Homo sapiens: one gene and its partners. The protein of the gene in region 4 purifies or fractionates together with the protein of the main gene of each other region. This does not show direct contact. Each region holds a gene or a part of one and is shown on either strand. Other genes may lie near its edges.

Evidence for each region.
Region 1: the proteins of SLC5A5 (region 4) and NT5E purify together in Homo sapiens (affinity purification with mass spectrometry, with the first as the bait; one large-scale study listed by BioGRID). This does not show direct contact.
Region 2: the proteins of SLC5A5 (region 4) and FAM91A1 purify together in Homo sapiens (affinity purification with mass spectrometry; one large-scale study listed by BioGRID and IntAct). This does not show direct contact.
Region 3: the proteins of SLC5A5 (region 4) and PPP1R3A purify together in Homo sapiens (affinity purification with mass spectrometry, with the first as the bait; one large-scale study listed by BioGRID). This does not show direct contact.

What each region holds. Positions count from the first base shown.
Region 1 is NC_000006.12:85,448,439-85,453,774, reverse strand, and holds the start of NT5E (5'-nucleotidase isoform 1 preproprotein), read right to left. Parts: upstream 3,693-5,336; 5' UTR 3,636-3,692; coding exon 3,297-3,635; intron 1-3,296. UniProt on the Homo sapiens protein: Catalyzes the hydrolysis of nucleotide monophosphates, releasing inorganic phosphate and the corresponding nucleoside, with AMP being the preferred substrate. Shows a preference for ribonucleotide monophosphates over their equivalent deoxyribose forms.
Region 2 is NC_000008.11:123,785,139-123,789,830, reverse strand, and holds part of FAM91A1 (protein FAM91A1), read right to left. Parts: intron 4,203-4,692; coding exon 4,090-4,202; intron 3,337-4,089; coding exon 3,221-3,336; intron 2,571-3,220; coding exon 2,458-2,570; intron 2,168-2,457; coding exon 2,081-2,167; intron 1,631-2,080; coding exon of another isoform or gene 1,598-1,630; exon of another isoform or gene 1,584-1,597; intron 219-1,583; coding exon 86-218; intron 1-85. UniProt on the Homo sapiens protein: As component of the WDR11 complex acts together with TBC1D23 to facilitate the golgin-mediated capture of vesicles generated using AP-1.
Region 3 is NC_000007.14:113,880,118-113,884,809, forward strand, and holds part of PPP1R3A (protein phosphatase 1 regulatory subunit 3A), read right to left. Parts: intron 2,204-4,692; coding exon 2,145-2,203; intron 2,047-2,144; coding exon 1,922-2,046; intron 9-1,921; coding exon 1-8. UniProt on the Homo sapiens protein: Seems to act as a glycogen-targeting subunit for PP1. PP1 is essential for cell division, and participates in the regulation of glycogen metabolism, muscle contractility and protein synthesis.
Region 4 is NC_000019.10:17,881,317-17,886,008, reverse strand, and holds part of SLC5A5 (sodium/iodide cotransporter), read right to left. Parts: intron 4,050-4,692; coding exon 3,937-4,049; intron 3,861-3,936; coding exon 3,790-3,860; intron 2,329-3,789; coding exon 2,242-2,328; intron 2,160-2,241; coding exon 1,963-2,159; intron 1-1,962. UniProt on the Homo sapiens protein: Sodium:iodide symporter that mediates the transport of iodide into the thyroid gland. Can also mediate the transport of chlorate, thiocynate, nitrate and selenocynate.

The DNA.
Region 1 (5,336 bases), on a different chromosome or scaffold from region 4:
CCCACCCTGGCTGCTGCCTCCCCCATTTAGGAGCAATTGGCTAGGGCTAAGGCTGCAGCCTTATGGGCAGGAAGTGGGCTCAGCAGCCAGGGCCTCAGAAGCAGCAGCCAAGCAGAGAAAAGGCACCTTTCTAGGGGACCCTAGAGACCTGCTCAAAGCTACCTTCCCCACAGCCTGTCTTGGTGAGAATCTCACCTCTGGAGGTGGATACCTTCAGTTTTGTGCTGTGGGGAGATTTCATAAGTCTGCTCAATGAGTAACTATAGCAAAAATAGTTTAGGCAATGGTACTTAGGTAAGATGGTAGAGGGCAGGCAGGTGGTAGACTGTGCCAGGCTGTGAGAATCAGATAATCTGATGCACAACCCAAACCTTCCCTTCCTCACAATTCCCCTCCTCCCCACCCAGGGCACATGAAACTCACTTTCAGTGAGCACCAGCAGGGATTATCTCATGTATTCCTCACAAAACCTCTGCAAGATGGGGGTTATCACTCCTGTTTTACAGCTAAGGAACATGAAGCTCAGAGAAAGTAACCAGGCCAAGCGCATACTGTCAGTGCTTCCATGCTGTCTTCCTCGTGCCTCAGGGGACAACAGTCCTTCCACTGAGACAGCTACACTAACTGGAGAGTTTTGCCATCCTCTTCCCAGTTTTCTGCCTAGTAGTGGTTCCAGGGGGTCTCCAGGATTGCCCTGGGTCCTCTACAGCAATCAGGATTACTCCAGTAGGTCTAGAAAGTGTACACCTCCTTGGAAGTTCCTGCTCGAGGGGACTCCTGTGTTTTAGCTGGATTCTAGGAAATTCCTCTTTGTCCTCCATATGCTTCAGTCCTTTTATGTGGCTCCTTTGAACTAGGTCCAGTCTCCAGGAAACTGGAGATGCCCCTCCACAACTGTTTTCCACCCTGATTTGAATCCCCAGTGTCCTAGGAATCAATATGCGGTGAGTGGTTACAGTGGAGGAACGTTTATACCACAACAGCAATAAATTCTCTGAGGGTTAGTATAATATAAACAATTGACAGTGAAACATCTGTGCAATACTGGAGTACAGCAGAGCTTTAGCACATGCTTTAGCACTACAGAACTGGGATTTTATGCACGTCAAATCATGTTTGACACACCCCCAAACTGCACAGAGTAAGTCCTGAGGACACAGCCATCTAACCTTGCCATGTGATCCGCTCCCAATCTTTACCCCCTGCCAACATTACGTAAGTAGCCTATTTTTCCTCAGAACCCAATTCAATTTTCTTGAGCAAAATTTGAAAGAAAGTAATTTCATCCAACAAAAAGGATTCTGAACAAACACAGAAGAGATAGGCTGTAACTTACAGCAGTTTACTCAGGCCTCACCTAGATGTCCTGTCATAAACATTTGATACCATGATTAACACCAGGAGCTCAACTAGACTTACAAGAGGGAAATATTATTAGGGAAAACTAGGAATTCTTCATTCTTATTTTTCCACTAAAAAGGGTTCACACAATTGTGGAGAAAAGAGTGTCACAAAAAGTAAAGTTTACAAAGTCGTGGTTTATATGCAAAATAAAACAAACACATGTAAGTTTATTCTACCCTTCTGGGAGGAAGTGGAGACACAGGGTAGCAACAACTCAATTCTACAAATATTTATTTTGTCATTACTGAGTGCAAAGTATCAGGGAAGTGTAGCTGTGGAATACCAATGCTTAAGAGACCACAGAGTTCTTGAAACCCACGATTCTTCTTCAAATCCAGATGTGTGTGAGCCCCACCTCATCAACTCTGAAGGCTGAAGGATCAGCTGGAATTTCTGCTGCAGGGTGTCCCTGATAAGCTCAAAAGCATCAGAACGGAGGGAGCTTTCTCCCCTTCTCTCATCTCATTAAAATGAGCTTTCTTGTTGTGGGGGGTTGGGGAGGGACCTTTAAAACCAAACAATGGTGCCCTCTTATCATCTTTTCCTGTCCTCCTTTCTCCAAGTTTCCAGAGGGGAAAATAAAACCAAACAAACCCCTCAGCATTGTGCTCTCCTGACCTCTAAGCTCTTCTCATATAAAGTGTACTGTTAGCCTTCTGTATCCCAGCCTAATCACACTTCCCTTTCCCTTCCACACTTGTGGACTTCACAGATTTCTCTGGACGTTTCTCTGGAGATTTCTCAGTTCTTCCTCTTCCAAAGCTCTTTTTTCTTCTCCCAAGTTTCTCCACAGTCTTGCTGAATCCCTTTACTCAAGGCTTTTACACAGGGTTAAATTTGGGTGGTGGTTTTATTTTTTTTTTAACCACCATATATACATCTTGGTTGTACTTATTTATTACTGTGCAACCACCTCTGCTCCCTTTCTAGAATTTAGTGCAATAGAAAAGGCATTACCTTTAACCTAACATTTGGGACTTTGAACTAAACTTTTGCACATGTTTTAAGAGCCCATTATCTCTTAAGTTGGACTCTTCCTAAATCTCTGCCGCCAAACCTACTTTATTGAAATCCTTTGAAACCCAAGTCTTTCCACATTTTGGCTCTCTCTGAAGTTTCTTTCTTTCTTTCTCTTTCTTTCTTTCTTTCCTTTTCTTAACCCTATATTATAGTGTCTGGTAATAACAACATATATAGACACCACACTATGTGTCTGGTAATAATATAGAGACCACACTATGTGCACTATGTACAATTATAATCCTTATTTTTATACAGGATAGAACTGAGGCAAGAAAGAGTAAATAACTTGCTCAAGGTCACATAGAAGGTAATTGAACAGAGAATCTACCCCAAAGCTGTGAGCTTAATTACTCTCAAGCTCCGGGGTCAAAGAGATCTGGTGTCCATTCTTATCACGTCTCCCTTTTTGCGGGGATGGTGCCTGTTAATTTATTCAGCTTCTTCGACGCGGTTTCCCTTTCAATAAGATTGAGATAAAGCATTTTTCGAAAGATCTAGATTGAGATAAAGCATTCTTTGAAAGATCTAGCAGTAAATGAGAGCTGCGTGAGGGATCCGATTCAGTCCCTAGCTCTGGATAACTGTCAGTGCTTCTACGCACCCCACCTTAAGCCCCTCGCAGGCAGGACTGGGTCCTGCTCCTCTAAATACTCCCATCTCATAGTGGGGGCGCAATAACGTCCGTTTAAGACGAATCGTCCAAGGGACTTCTATGCATCCAGCTGGCACACTGGCCGGAGTCTCACTTTATCCCCACATCTCTCCGCGCCCTGGACCTAGGCTTGCCACACTCTGCCATCCGCTGCTTTTCCAGCCCGGCTCCTCTCTCAGTCCGGGACTACTATCCCGGGCGCGGGCTCGGGTCTTACCATGGCATCGTAGCGCAGGGCGTTCATGAAGTGCGCCACCTCGGCGCCCTTGTACACGGTGAACCAGATAGTGCCCTGGTACTGGTCGCCGGCGTCCAGCAGCAGCACGTTGGGTTCGGCGCGGCGGATCTGCTGAACCTTGGTGAAGAGCCGAGCCACGCCACCCATGCAGCGGCTGGCGTTGACGCACTTGCTGGAGTCCTCGCTGGTCTGCTCCAGCCGGCTGTGCACGTCGTTGGTGTGCAAAATCGTAAGCTCCCAGGCGCCAGCCGCAGGCCACAGCACCGCGCCCAGGGCGAGGAGTAGCGTCGCGGGCGCCCGCGCGGCTCGGGGACACATAGCTGTGGCGCGTGAACTGGGTGCGAAAGCGGGCGAGCCGGGCGAGTGCCGGCGAGTAGGGGCGAGCAGCTAGGGCCGGGGCTCGGTGCCCCGGCTGGAGGGGCGGGGCCCGGGTCAAGGCCGGGGCGGGTCCTTCTTCAGCCTGGAGGCCGGCTTGGCGGCCAGGCGCAAGTTCGCGACGTCACCCGATCCGACCCTGGTACCCGGAGCGGCCCTGGCGCGGCTGTCGGCTGGCACCAGCTCCCTGCAGGAAGAGTGGAGAGGTTGTTCCCGGCGGGGAGCGGGTACCGGCCGCATCCCGGCCGGACCAGGGAGCCTGGGCGCCGGCAGTTCGGCTGCTGGTGCGCCGCTCTTTCGGGGGCGCGAGGAAGGAATTGGAGGGGTCCGCCCCGCGCCTGGGTCCTCTCTGAGTCTCGCCTCATTCGAGGCACGGGTTTTTCTACAAAAGGAATGTATGGTTTGTGGTTGCGCTAGCTCATCACTTCAAAGAACCAAAGAAGGAAAAGAGAGGGGGCGGGAAGAAAGATGAGCGAGCTGAGGGGCAGAGAGGAGGAGTAAAGAGAGGCCGGGCAGAGGAGCTCCTTGCAGTTTCGGGCTGTGAGAGCCGAAGCTCACTGAGATGTGACGCTTCCTGTTGGGTTGAGAACGCACGAAGTCTACGATGCTTAGACAAAAAAATCTCAGAAACTAAGAAATCATTCGAATCCAGTTCCTTGTTTATTCACAATTAAAACCTTAGTGATAAAACAGAGGCGACGCGCGGACAGCTCCTGGAAGCAGAAACACGATTGGGGTAAAATCCGGCAGCTATCAGGACGGGAAGGGATGCTGCCCTTCTTTGCTTTTCTGGTCTTATTTTATTTTATTTTATTTTTATTTTGTCGCGTGTGCTTTCGGTGTCGCAGTGAAGTCATAGCCAAATACAATGTTAGGAAGATTTTCCTCTATGTTTTCTCCTAAGAGTTTTATAATTTAAACTCTTAGACCTTTAATCCATTTTGAGTTAATTTTCATATGTGGTATGAGTCCACATTTACTCTTTTTCATGTGGATATCCAGTTTTCTTAGTACCATTTGTTGAAAAGACATTCTGTGCCCGTTTTTAAGACATTGACCTGAGGTTCGGAGATTGTAAATCATTTGCCAAGAAAGGCCATGCAGTTTGGGAGCAGCAGTGCCTGGGGCTACAGAAGACCCTTGCTTCTGGGACACCCTCTAATGTCATGCTTTGCAAGGTTTTGCTCTGTCCCTCTTTGAGCACCTGCTAGAAGCAGGTAAAAGAACTGGTAGTTTTGCTGTTTTAACTTAAAAAAAGAATGATTTTAGACTTACAGAAAAGTTGCAAAGGTAATAAAGGGAGTTCCCACATACCCATCACCCATATTGCCTTATGTTAACAGCTTATATAACCAATGAAACTAAAAACTTAACAGTGATACGAAACTATTAACTGTGTTACTGATTTTATTTTAATTTCACCAACTGTTCCACTAATGTCCGTTTTCTATTCCAGGACCCAATTCAGGATACCATATTGCAGTTAGTTTTCCTGTGTTCTTAGCCTCCTCTAATCTGTGACAGTTTCTCAGTCAGTTGTCTTCAAAAACCTTGACACTTTTGAACAGTACTGGTTTCTGTATACTATCCCTCAGTTTGGGTTTGTCTGATGTTTTCTCATGATTGGACTGAAGCTGTGGATGT
Region 2 (4,692 bases), on a different chromosome or scaffold from region 4:
TTATATAAGTGAGCATGATCTGTTTAATTTCTTAGAAAAAAGTTTCATATGATCATGTCTTCAAAATTAAATATATTTATCATACCATAATTGGGTTGGTCTGGCTGTGCAGTTTGCGCAACTAGATCTTTGTTATGACGCAGAAACAGTATTGTGTTTCTCAGAGTAAGTGCATGATCAAAATATCTCTGTGCTTCTCCTTCACCAGTGCTCTGAACCTAAACCAAGAGAAAATAGATTTTGCAACAAAAATACCACTTTTATGCCATTCACTCTAATAATCATATAATAGAGATATAAGACATTATTCAAAAGTAGTAAATCAAAAATTTGCCCAGGCAATACCGAAACAAGTTATTAACCTCAGTCTTGGTTGAGTTCCCAATTTTACTACATCTATGGAGATAGAAATTACTTCAACTAAGACTAACAATTTTAGCAATTGAATAATGCTAAGTTATAGCATTATATGTTACATGTTCCAAATGATTCAAATAGAGTGCTTAAACAACTCTAAAACCCGTATTCTGCTCCATCTAGGAAAGTACTCCAAGGTCACCAGTTTTACCTATAATTCTCATAACTTTGTTCACAATTCTGTATTACCAGTTACAAGAGACACTGGAGTCTGTGATTCAACATAGCTGTTCACCATTGCTGAACACACAGCTTAAATTCACTCAACAAAGATTTACTTAGTGCCTCCTATGGACTATGACCTCCCTAGGAGATAAGGATAGAGTAATGGACAAAACCCCTGCCTTCACTGGCCTTATAGTTTAATGTATGCTCTTCTGAATAAGTCTGAATAAGTCACCTTTTAATAAGTAGAGACATATATCCCAGAAACAACACAGAAAATGGAATGATAGGTCTACCAACGGGAAAATAACTAAATCAGATTTGCATACATTTAAGAAATCAATCTTAAGATCAAACTACTTAAAAAATAGCTAAGAATCCACTTTAAAAACTAAGCCTCAGACTGAAAGGCTTTCCCAAGAATGACTTTGTGATGAAAAAGAACATAGATTTATGAGTAAAAGAGCAGAAGTCAACTTGCAATTTGCTACATTTGATAAAAGACTAGCTGAGGTGAAAAAAAGATAAAAATCAGAAAACCAGAACTTGAAATGTGCAGTAACATAGTAAGAAATTTATTAGTAGAAGATAATATACAATAAGAAATGGGGTTAACAAATAAAGAAGCATGAAGAAATAAATGGCAGTATAAAGGTAAAAGTAAAAGAGACCAATTAATAGCAAAGGATTATCTCACACATATTTCTGCACTAATAAAAGTAAAAATCCTATGGAGTAGGAGCAGTGAAAAATGTTACAGTCTTTTTTTTTTAAGATATAAAGGAGTTGCAGAATCACCACAAATTCTCTAAACAGTGCATTGAAAATACAAAGTTCATCATAAAGCACAAAAGGCACGAAAAGTATTAGTCAAGGAACAGATTAGGCACACAAACTATTTGAATACAAAGAGGCCAGAATAAAATATCCGAAGAATGAAAAACACCAATAAAGGGCAATCAGATTTATTTAGAGCTAAGGAAAACTAGGGCTGTACTCACGGGGAAAAAGGTGGTTAAGAGCAAATATGGCTGAAGTCTTCAAGATGCTAAAAGGGATAGTGAGAGCGGACATAAATATGATACCCAGGGATATTGTTCCAGATTCAAGGTAAATGGAACAAAAACTTCAAATCAAACTGCTTAAGAGGTGATCTTAGAGAGTCATACCAGAAAAAAAATTGAAAGGCTATTTTAGCAAAAATTCAACTTAAAACATTACAGACTAAAATTTCTATACCCCATTTCTTCATTATCTCAAATTATGTTAAGAATTAGATGAGGTAGACATATCACTTTAAAAATCACAAAATCAATTCACCCACTCAATATGTTTAAGTCTAAATGACTGTAAGAGTACTAATTTGGGGAATGAGGTAGGAACGAGCAAGAATACACTGAAAGCCCATCCAAATCAACAGACTGTATAATTGGCATTCTGTCAAGCAAGGACAGATTCCAAATGCCCTAACATCCCCTTACATGCAATCTACATTTACCTTTTCTAGTTCTATAAGAAAGCTGTCCAGAGACTCATCTGAGAGTTTGCCTACTTCAAACATTGTGACTGCATGACTTTTCAAGTTCTGAAAAAAAGAAACAAAATATTAAAGTTCTACTTCTCCCTTTTTATGCTAAGCATACTATCAAATATTTATATTATCCTTTCAAATATATTTAAACTTAAGGATTGGGGGGTGAGGGGCTAATTCTTCCAATTACAAAAGGACCTTCCCTGAAAGTTATTATACTCCTCTAAGTCAGTTGTGCTTCGGGAATAAATGTAGTACTTTAAAAAAGATATAAAAGCATTAAATTATTTTATATCTAGTATTTATTTTAAACACCTTCATATTTAAACAAGAATTGGGCTTACTGGTGAAAGATTTCCCATCATTAAGAAGGCAGTAAGAGTGGAGTCAAACAGGAATGCGATGCGCTTCGTGTGTCCTGTAGACAGACTCAGGCTGCTTACACTGGCTGTGTCAGCTGAAAAACACCATAATTTAAAATCAAGTAAATGGAAATTATTCTTTGCTTACCATTTGGAGTGAAAGTATTTCATTTCAGCTTTATTTGATAACCAGAAAGTACATAATTTTAAAAAGGCACTATTATAGCCATAAGAAGTTCCAGCCATACCTATTTTGAAGCGCAAAGAATATTAAAAAGCATTTAACCCTAGGCCTTGTCCACTATGCTGTGTTTCCCTTTGGGCTTAGCCTCACTATTCTCTCGGGCTGAAATGGCTTTCCTTCCCTGACCAGCTGGCAGGCTCTTCTTCATTCTTAGCTCAAATAACATCTTCTCTGTGAAGGCTTCCCAAACCTCTCTAGCCAATTAAGGGTCTCTTCCTCTTTGCACCCTACAAGCATTATAATTGGTGCCCGTGTTGTTGTAATTTGTTTGGTCACATTCCCTTCTCTCTCCTTAGACTTAATTCTTAGAAGAAAGGTACCATATTCTTGTCAGTTTTATATACCTAGGACTTAGCACAGTGCCCAAAATATAGTAAAACACTCAAAGACTGCGTATTGAATAAAATCTAAACTAAAATTAGAAGGTAACTGTAAGAGTGTATGTTTGGACATGTGCCGTACCTACAGACAGACTCTATGTTAAACTGAGTTACTGCTAACCTGGATCTTCTTGACTATTTGTATCAGTGTCAGTTGCCGATGAAGCTTCTTGTACAGGACTCCTACTTTCCCCTCCATCCCATGACAAGAGCATCTTCTGTGGATCTAAGGTACTCCTATTAATGAAGAATGCATTTGCTTTTTAAAAATCATATAAATGACCTTACATTAAAATATCTACTGAAGTTAAGACTTAAATTATGAACAATCCATCAAAATTCAGTCTTATATTCAAGCCCAAAATTAAGTCGCAGCCCAAAAATGCTCTGCCTACATACAACAAGGGTTCTTAACTAAGATCCACGGATAGGCTTCAGAAAATTCAAGAACCCTTCAAGATTTTATGTAAAATATTTATTTGCTTTTTTTCTGGGAAAAGCCTTCTTAGTTTTCATTATATTCCAAAAAAGATCTGTAACACACACACAAGATTAAAAATCACTAATATAAAGGGCTCACCTCAACTGACAGGTTGAATAAATAAAATTTCTGGGCCAGGTGCAGTGGCTCACACCTGCAATCCCAACACTTTGGAAGGCCAAGGTGGGTGGATCAGTTGGGGCCAGGAGTTCGACACCAGCCTGGCTAACATGGTGAAACCCCACCTCTAACAGAAACACAAAAAATTAGCTGGGCATGGTGGTGCACACCTATAGTCCCCACTACTCAGGAGGCTGAGGCATGAAAATCGCTTGAAACGGGGAGGTGGAGGTTGCAGTGAGCCGAGATCGCGCCACCGCACTCCAGCCTGGATGACAGAGAGAGACTTTGTCTCAATAAATAAATAAATAAATAAATTTATGTATGTAAAATTAAATGTCTTTTCAAAAGGAAACTCTAATAGCTCATACTGAATAAATTTAAGTTACTTTAATCTGTTTACGGATGGAACATTCTTCCATGATGAATGAAGTTGATCCAAATTAATTACTTGTCCCTTCTTATGGGCAAAGCCCAATCGGCAATACATTGAAACAGCATTCTGAAAGGAATATAAAGGAAACTAATTACCATTTAAAATAAACTAGACATCACAATATTTGTAGAGAAAAAATAGTGTAATAGACTAATAGTGATTCTCAAACATTTTCATCCCGTAACCAGAAACTATTTTCAGTAGACCTGCTCCTCCCTTGAAGTCTTCATAAATGTATAGGAGGGAATGTTTCCAACTCTCTGGCCTTGCCCTCCCTACATCTACCCCTAATGAAGCAGGAGTTGTTGCTTTAACGGACCTCACTACAAGATACTGCTTGGGCTGCTTCTTGCATGAGTGCTCTCTTTTCAGTCCATGTGTTTGAATCCCAATTTAGGGCCCCTTTTCCTGCTCTTTCCTGTCTTTGCAAGTGCCCCTTTACTGTGCACGTTCTCTCAGACAGCTAACAACAATCTCAATGTCTTCGTTTCTCAGTAGCTTATCAAGATAAAAATCTACTAGTAAAATCCACTCAGTTATCACATCACCAGTAAAT
Region 3 (4,692 bases), on a different chromosome or scaffold from region 4:
TGATTTATCTTATGGGATAAAAACAACAAAGAAATAATGACCATAAGATCTTTTAAAATATATAGTGAATTAGATAGGTTTTATTAACTCGGCTAGTAATTATCTGGTAGATTTCTTTGACTGATTTCATTTGTGGATTTCATATAAACTCTGGAAGCCAGATGTTTTGGGGAAATCCTTGCAGGCTATGACTGGGGAACGAGATTAGTAAGAAAGGGGGCCCAAATTTATCACTCTCCTTCCCAGCTTCCAACTATCACATTGTATTATTCAACTGTTCTTGCTTGTCATTGCACTTTCTCCTCACTTAGACTATACACATTGATAGCTCCATGCTAATCAATTAGACAGCAGCTTCCTGGGTGCCCCTTGCTGCATTTACACTTGCTGTAGGTGCCCCCATTACAGTTTCTCTTATTAATATGTTTTCTGCAAAGCCTCTGCAAACTATTAATAGCAAAACGTCACTCAAAGAAAAGTGAGGGAGTTAATGTCTCTGCAAATTCTGTTTTAATGACCCTCTGCCAACTGGTACTCAAATGTATTTGAGCTCTTCAGTGATGCCAACTGTCAGGATTTAACAGTGAGATGCCTGTGTTTTTTTTTTTTTCTCCTCATAACTGACATTTGCATGATCTCAATAATTATATGCAAATCTTACGTTTTCCCCTTCTTCTCACATAAGGCTCATGTTACTTGTCAACTGCACAGCTGTCTTGTAAGCCAATGCCTGTGGGTTCCACAGATTTGGTTGTATTTCCATCTATTATAGAGCTTCATTGTTTTATGCATTAACGTCAGCATGGAGCAAATTAGCATCTAAATTACAGCTCCCTGTTCATTTATTGGATGTACAATCTCAGTAACTTCTAAACAAACTTTTATATTTGAGCCTGCTCATCGTAATGAGATGTATTGGTGAAGTATGTGATTTTTCAGGGCCCTTTCATTATATTCTGTGGTTTGAAAAAAATGGCCATGTTAACTTTCAGCTGGTGAGAATTCTCACAATGGGTGACAACTTTGTAGTTTCTTAAAGTTGGAGCAAAGTAAATTGCATACTTTAGTGATGCAGCTCCGCGATCACTATAGAAAAGGTGGAATATGTGGGGAAATAGATGAGCTCTATTTCTTTCCTGTTTCAGCACTGACACTTGAAGAGACAAATGTCATTTTAATCTTAGATGATTATGAATCCATGTATTCCAATGATATGAGCTCCATCCAAATACAGTAAAGGATAAATTGCATTATGTGACTCATTTACTCCTATTTCTTCCTTTGTGATAAAAGTGCTGTATAAACCATCCCCCCAAAAAATTCCAAATAGATTGAATGCTCACCAAGTATGAAATTTATAACAAATTTAATACTAAGTTGTATAGTACTGAATTTGTTTCCTGTTTTAAAATTATGGCACAGGCTATTTTCTTTTTACTTGGTAATTTAATACTCTACAATGATATAGAACTTGGAGATTCTCACAAGGATGGAATTTTTTAAAAAATGCTGTTACATGTGAGAATCATAGACTTCTAGAGTAGGACAGGACACTAACAATCCTCTAGTCCAGCCCTCTCATTTTATAGACGAGTTTATGCTAAGTATACACTTGTCACAAAGATTAGAAATGCACATCAGGATAGTGCTACCTCTCCTGTAATTCCTGCAAACTATTACTCAGAGCCACTGGTAAAGAGATAAGAAATGAATGTCATTAATTTACCACTGCAGAGACCAGAAGCAACATACAGAAATCAAAGTGCCTTGTTGATCAAGCTAGAGACGCAAGGACAGAATAGGCTGTGCTTTCACATTTGCAAATTATATTAGTTGAAGCTATTGAAAGGCAGGCATTGCAGCATCTTTGAAGCAGAAATGGATTCATCTTCTCTAATACCGTGGCAACCAGAACACTTACCATCAACTCTAATTCTTTTTCATTATGTTCATCATGTTCCCTGTTTACATCTTTTACATTTCGATTACTGGCTTCCAAATCTTCCTTGTCCTCATGAGAACAAATGATTGTTGGGATATAGGTATCTGAAAAGTTAATATAATTGTGCCTATGTAAGATTGTTTTAATTGTAGACTTTCACAAAAGAGACAAATTTGGTTTTAAAATTAATGAAGAATATTACCTGTATTCTTTGGATTCTCAAAGTTATTTTCTTCTGATGTTACTGATGATTCTTCTTTACTGTTAAATTTAAAAGAAAATGTTATATGTTTTTCTGGGACTGCATCTTCTAAGTATTTTTACACAGGGGGAAATTCAATCAGTAACAAGCCAAATAAACATTATATAGCCTTTCTTATTTTCCTATATTACTTGGGATGTTTTGAAATAAAAATGATCTTTTTGGAATGATGCAATAGTAAGTATTGGTTGTAGAAAAATTTAAAAGTAATTCAAACAATGCCATATTTCTAAACAGAAACACACTCTATTTCTTAATATTTAAGAAAATATATTAAAACTTATATAACCAAAGTAAAAACATATGTAAATGTAGATTATTCTATCTTCAATGAATTTCATCTTTTCAAGTGAGAATGTTTTTCTCATGGCTTAATGATAAAATTTTATGAACTGACAGTCTATTTATGGTCATGGAAATTGCTAACATTTCAATTAATTTTTTGTGTTCCATTTTACTCAAAATTCTTCCAGTTGGACTAACATTAACTCTCTCTCCAGAAAAGCAAAAAAACACAAAAAGTAAAAGTAAGAAAGAAACAAGCTAACTAAAAAACTGAAAGGCAGCTAAATTTATACTCAGTTAAAAGACTTTATATATGTATTGCCACAGGCCAATTTTAAAAGCAAGACTTTGGATCATTTATATGCAAGCATATACTTTCCTTCTTTAAAATGATTTGGGTTACATTTCCTTTTCTAGCATACCCTGCATACTGATTGTAAAAGACAAATACCTTTTTCCTTCAAATGTAATCTATTTGTAGTTGTATTTGTGAAGTCATTAGAATTTAGATTTGTCCATGAAACTCAGGAGGAAAAATGTTGGTAAAAAAAGCTCACTTTGTGTATAGTTATGTCACAAGTCAATTATAAGAAATATTTGGCGCAGTATACACATTTTCTTATACTCTCTCAACTGAATTTCCTTATGGTGCCTATTCTCAAGGACTTTTCTGCAACAAAAGAAATCTGGAAAGTTGGCAATGGCTGATAAATTTGTGTAACAAGAGTCTAGACTTCATTGCATGAGCAATTCTGATCCAAATCCCAGGAAGGCCAATTTTATATTCACAAATCATGAGAAATTGAAAATTCTTCCATCCTGACCATGCAAGAAGATAATTCAGTTTTATATATTTTTATGATTCATAATTTTAACTTTACTAAAAACATTTGGTATTTTTAGTGGGCCCACATATAGAAAATAATGCTTCTATATAAATATAATTTTATTAGAAAAATATACTGCTTGCATAATTGATACTGAATTTATGAATCCATATTGCTTAATGAGGTCAAAAATTATGCCAAGGTTTATTTTTACGAAATCCAACTGCAGGCTGACACACCTTCCCTTCTCCATGTACATGTTTATGTGCTTAAAAATATATAAACCATTAAACAGCATTTATTTATTCCTGCTTCGTCTCTATTCCCATACAATACTGAAAGTATTATTTGTAGAAGAAAAATAGTCAAAGATTTTTGTTCTTATCTAATCAAAATGCTACCAATCACTTCTCTAATTCAATTCTCTAATATAATTTAATTCTTAAAAAATGATCGAGTCAAAAGGACAGGAGCCTGCTTTAACTTATTTGGGGATAAAATAAGTATTCAACTATGTATTCTTATGTTAGTGTCTTAAAATGTAAATATAGAAATATAGGAGAAAAACTTCAAATTCAGGGACAAGTACAAATAAAAGTAGAAATAAATGAAATTTAAATATATGAAATATCTATAAACAAAAACAGAAAATACGTAAGATTTCTATGGGCAAAGTAATAAAATTATATCAAAGAATGTCAACAATCCTAAAAAGGTTGATAAACATACCATGTTCATAGATAGAAAATATTATGAAGATGTCAATTCTCTCACAAATTGATCTACAAATTCAATACTAATCAAAACACCAAAACATTTTTTATAGAATTTGAAAATATTATTCCAAACAGAAAAATAAAGGGCAAATGATGGCTAAAATGTTTCTGAGAAATAGCAGGGAGGAGGAACTTTTTTTATCAGATTAAGTATTTTTAATGAAGATTTATTTATTAAGATAGTGTTATATTGGTACAGAGTCAGGCAAACTAATAAGACAAGATTGAGAGCTTAGAACTTTGGTATATGACAAATGGTATATCCAGAACATTGGTATATGACTAACATAGCATGTCAGACAATAGGAAATATGGTACTTTTCAGTAAGTTGAGAGAGAGAAAATGGCTACCAATTGGATTTAGATCTTAAATGTCAAAAACCTTGAAATTCTTAGTAGAAAATATATGTGAATATCTTCTGGGCCTAAGAGTAGGAAATATTTTCTTAAGAAAAAAGAAAAAAAAGATTTAAAAAATTGGTCAGTTTAACTGTAGTAAAATTTAAAATGTTTATTAAGAGACTATGCAGTAAAAATAGAAGTTACAAAGTGGGAGAAGATGCTTTCATTACACAAAATCAACACAAATAAGCATCAAGA
Region 4 (4,692 bases):
TATGCCTGTGACCCCAGCTACTCAGGAGGCCGAGACAGGAGAATTGCTTGAACCTGGGAGGCAGAGGTTGCAGTGAGCTGGGATCACGCCACTGCACTCCAGCCTGGGCGACAAAGTGAAACCCCGTCTCAAAAAATATATATGTATTATGCTAAGACACAAAAGATCACATATTTTATGATTCCATTTACATGAAATGCCCAGAACAGGCAAATTCATAGAAACAGAAAGTGGATTCGTGCTTGCCAGGAGCTGGGGAGAGGGGGAAGTGGGAAGTGACTGCTGATGGGGACAGGGCTTCTTTCTGGGGTGATAAAAATGTTCTTATGACCAGGAACAGTGCCTCACACCTGTAATCCCAGCACTTTGGGAGTCAGAGGCAGGCAGATCACTTGAGCCCAATACTTTGAGACCAGCCTGGGCAACATGGCAAAAACTCGTCTCTATAAAAAATACAAAAAATTTAGCCCAGCATGGTGATACATGCCTATAGTCCCAGCTACTTGGGAGGCTGAGGCAGGAGGATCATCGGAGTCTGGAGGTCAATGGTGCAGTGAGCTGTGATTGTGCCATTGCACTCCAGCCTGGGTGTTAGAGTGAGACCCTGTCTCCAAAAAATCAAATAAACAAAAAGCAAAAAAACCCACCCAAAAAACCAAAATAAATAAATAAATAAATAAACAAAACAGAAAATGTTCTTGGTTGGCTGGGTGCCCACACCTGTCATCCTGGCACTTTGCAAGGCTGAGGTGGGCAGATCGCTTGAGCCCAGGAATTCCAGACCAGCCTGGGCAACATAGCCAGACCCTGTCTCTACAAAAAATAAAAATAAAAACAAGCAGGACATGATGGTGTGCACCTGTGGTCCCAGCAACTAGGGGGGCTGAGGTAGGAAGATTCCTTGAGCCCAGGAGGTTGAGGCAGCAGTGAGCTATGATCGTGCCACTGGACTCCAGCCTGGGCAACAGAGCAAGACCCTGCTCCAAAAAAAAAAAAAAATAGAAAATGTTTTTGGGGCCAGGCACAGTGGCTCACACCTGTAATCCCAGCATTTTGGGAGGCTGAGGTGGGCGGATCACCTGAGGTCAGGAGTTCAAGATCAGCCTGGCCAACATGGTGAAACCCCATCTGTACTAAAAATACAAAATTAGAAAAAAAAAAGAGGAAACGTTCTTGACTTAGATAGTGGTGATGGTTGCACAAATATACTAAATGCCACTTTAATTTATTTATTTGAGTTGGAGTTTCATTTTTGTTGCCCAGGCTGGAATACAGTGGTGCGATCTCAGCTCACTGCAACCTCCACCTCCTGGGTTCAAGCGATTCTCCTGTCTCAGCCTCCCGAGTAGCTGGGATTACAGGCACCTGCCACCACGCTTGGCTAAGTTTTGTATTTTTAGTAGAGACGGGGGTTTCCCCATGTTGATCAAGCTGGTCTTGAACTCCTGACCTCAGGTGATCCACCTGCCTCAGCCTCCCAAAGTGCTGGGATTACAGGTGTGAGCCACTGTGCCTGCCTGGCCTAAATGCCACTTTTAAATGGCTAATTTATCTCAATAAAAAATAGAACCAAACCAAATTCTGGGCCTCCCTCAAGCTGGGAGGATTGCTTGAGCCTGAGAGGTTGAAGCTGCAGTAAGCTGAGATTGCACCCCTGCATTCCAGCCTGGACCACAGAGCGAGGCTCTGTCTCAGAAAAACAAAACAAAAAAAGTACTAGCTTCCTCTGGCTGCACCATATCTCCCACCCATCTCTCCTCCCATTAAATGCACCCTAACCTCAGTGCAGTTGGACTGGGACTAACCCGATTGTGGCCTCAGGGCCTTTGCACCTACCGTTCCCTCCCCCAGGAATGCATTTTACTAATCAGGCTTCTTACACAGAGTGCAGGGCAAGTAAGTTTCCCTTCAAGATCACACCATCCAGGGCTCGGGTACCCCCCTACCCTCAAGTCTGCTCACCTGGGGGCCCTGCTGGAGTCGTTAGCAGGGAGGAGAGCCGGGTCCAGGAGGCCAGAGGCGTTGACTGAGAGAGCCACGCAGCGGGCAGCCGACGATGGCAGGACCCTCATGGTCTGCTCGCTGGGTGGGTACAGCGTGGCGCCCAAGGCCACCCACAGCGACAGCGCCAAGCCCGCGCCTAGTCCCGCGAGGACGCCCTGGGGGCAGAGCCGGCGTCAGGGAAGGGGAGGGGCCTGTCCGGCCCCGCCCCTCCCCGCCCCTTGCCCCGCCCCCACTCACCGGTGTGTTGCAGGCCGGCAGGAACATTCCCAAGATGAAGGCTCCCAGCAGGGGGCCGCTGATGACTCCCATGACGGTGAAGGAGCCCTGGGAGAGTAGGTGGAAGTGGGGCTGAGGGCGGAGCCCTCCCACCGCTCTGGGCCTCAGTTTACCCGCTGGGAAAGCGAGACCTCAGGAACTCCAATGTGGGTCTCAAGGACTCCTCTGTGTCTCAGTTTCCCTAAAGGGGAGAGGACCCCCCCCCCTTGTTCCTGCCTATCTCCCTTGGGTTGGAGGCAAAGACACTGATTATCTCTTGGGGGTGGCAGTCCCACCCTCAAGCCAGGGAGACCCTTTCTTCTTCTTTTTTTTTTTTAGACAGAGTCTCACTTTGCTGTCCAGGTTGGAGTGCAGTGGCGCGATCTTGGCTCACTGCAACCTCCATAGGGAGGCCCTTTCTGTCGCCACCTCCCCCTTCCCAATTCCCCCACCCCAAGCCAGCCAGCTGCAAAAAAGTCCCCTGATGGCCTCTGGCATCAAATAGAACTTAGTTCTTAATCTCAGCGACTTGGAAGGCTGAGGCGGGTGGTTGCTTGAGGCCAGGAGTTCAAGACAAGCCTAGGCACGAAGCGAGACCCTGTCTCTAAAAACAAGTTTTAAAATTAGCCAGGCCAGGCGTGGTGGCTCACACCTGTAATCCCAACACTTTGGGAGGCAGAGGCGGGTGGATCACTTGAGGTCAGGAGTTCGAGACCAGACTGGCCAACATGGTGAAGTCCCATCTCTAATAAAAATACAAAAATATAAGCTGGGCGCGGTGGCTCACGCCTGTAATCCCAGCACTTTGGGAGGCCGAGGAGGGCGGATCACGAGGTCAGGAGATCGAGACCATCCTGGCTAACACGGTGAAACCCCATCTCTACTAAAAATACAAAAAATTAGTCAGGCGTGGTGGCGGGCGCTTGTAGTCCCAGCTACTCGGGAGGCTGAGGCAGGAGAATGGCGTGAACCCAGGAGGCTGAGCTTGCAGTGAGCCAAGATGGTGCCACTGCACTCCAGCCTGGGCAACAGAGCGAGACTCCGTCTCAAGAAAAAAAAATACAAAAATATTAGACGGGCATGGTGGCATGCACCTGTAATCCCAGCTACTCTGGAGGCTGAGGCAGAATTCCTTGAACCCAGGGGGTGGAGGTTGCAGCGAGCTGAGATCATGCCACTGCACTCCAGCCTGGGCAACAGAGTGACACTCCACCTCAAAAAAAAAAAAAAAAGAAAAAAGAAAAAAATTAGCCAGGCATGGTGGCACACACCTGTAACTCCAGCTACTTGGGAGATTGAGGTGGAAGGATGGCTTGAACCCAGGAGCTGGAGGTTGCAGTGAGCTATGATCGGGCCTCTGCTCACCAACCTGGGACAACACAGTGAGACCCCATCTCAAAAAAAAAAAAAACATAGAAGTGAGTTCTGCCACTGACACATGTGACCTCTCTGAGCCTCAGTTTAATGGGAAAGAGGGAAAGGTGCCCCCACCTCTCAGGAGACCAGGGCAGGGGGCAGGTGGGGTCTCACCTGAAGGACACCTCCTCCGAGCAGTGAGGACAGGGCTGCCACGGTGAGACAGGCCGATCCGTAGATGAGTGCTGTAGTGGATGAGGATGGCACGGTCAACGGGGAGGGACTGCCCTGGCCTCCCACCCAGGTCTCCCTGAAACTCACAGAGCCCCTTGGAGATAATCACGAGTTTCCTGGGTGCCAGGCTCCGCAGCCGAGGTTTGATGAGGTCTTCTACAGTGACTGCAGCCATAGCATTGATGCTGGTGGATGCTGTGCTGTGTGAGGAAGGCAGCGGGGGGTCCTCAGGCCATATGGAGAGACCGTCCACACCATCTGGCCTGCCAGACCTCACCCAGCCTGAGGGCAACGGTGGGGGTAACCCAGTCCTGCAAAGGTGAAGGAGATATTTGCCCCTCCCCTCCCCGAAGACCTGAGACATCCCTACAGGAGCAAGGACACCTGTGACCAAGGGCAGGTGGGACAGACAGGTGGGTTCTGGTTCCAGAGGGACTGCAGTCACATGTGGGAGATTTGCAAAAGGGACAGTGAGGGCATGTGACCAGAAGTCCCGGAAGAGTGGAAACCACCTGAGTGTGTGGCCTTGGAAGGCAGAAGCAGGGGACTGCTTGGTCATGGCTGTGCCCCAGGGTTTAGAACAACAGTACCTGGGCTGAGCACGTTGGCTCATGCCTGCAATCTCAGCACTTTGCGAGGCCAAAGCATGCAGATCACCTGAGGTCAGGAGTTCAAGACCAGCCTGGCCAACATGGCGAAACCCCGTCTCTACTAAAAATACAAAAATTAGCCGGCTGTGGTGGCGTGGACCTGTAATCCCAGCTACTTGGGAGGCTGAGGCAGGAGAATTGCTTGAACCCAGGAGGTGGAGGTTGCAGTGAGCCGAGATGGCACCACTGCACT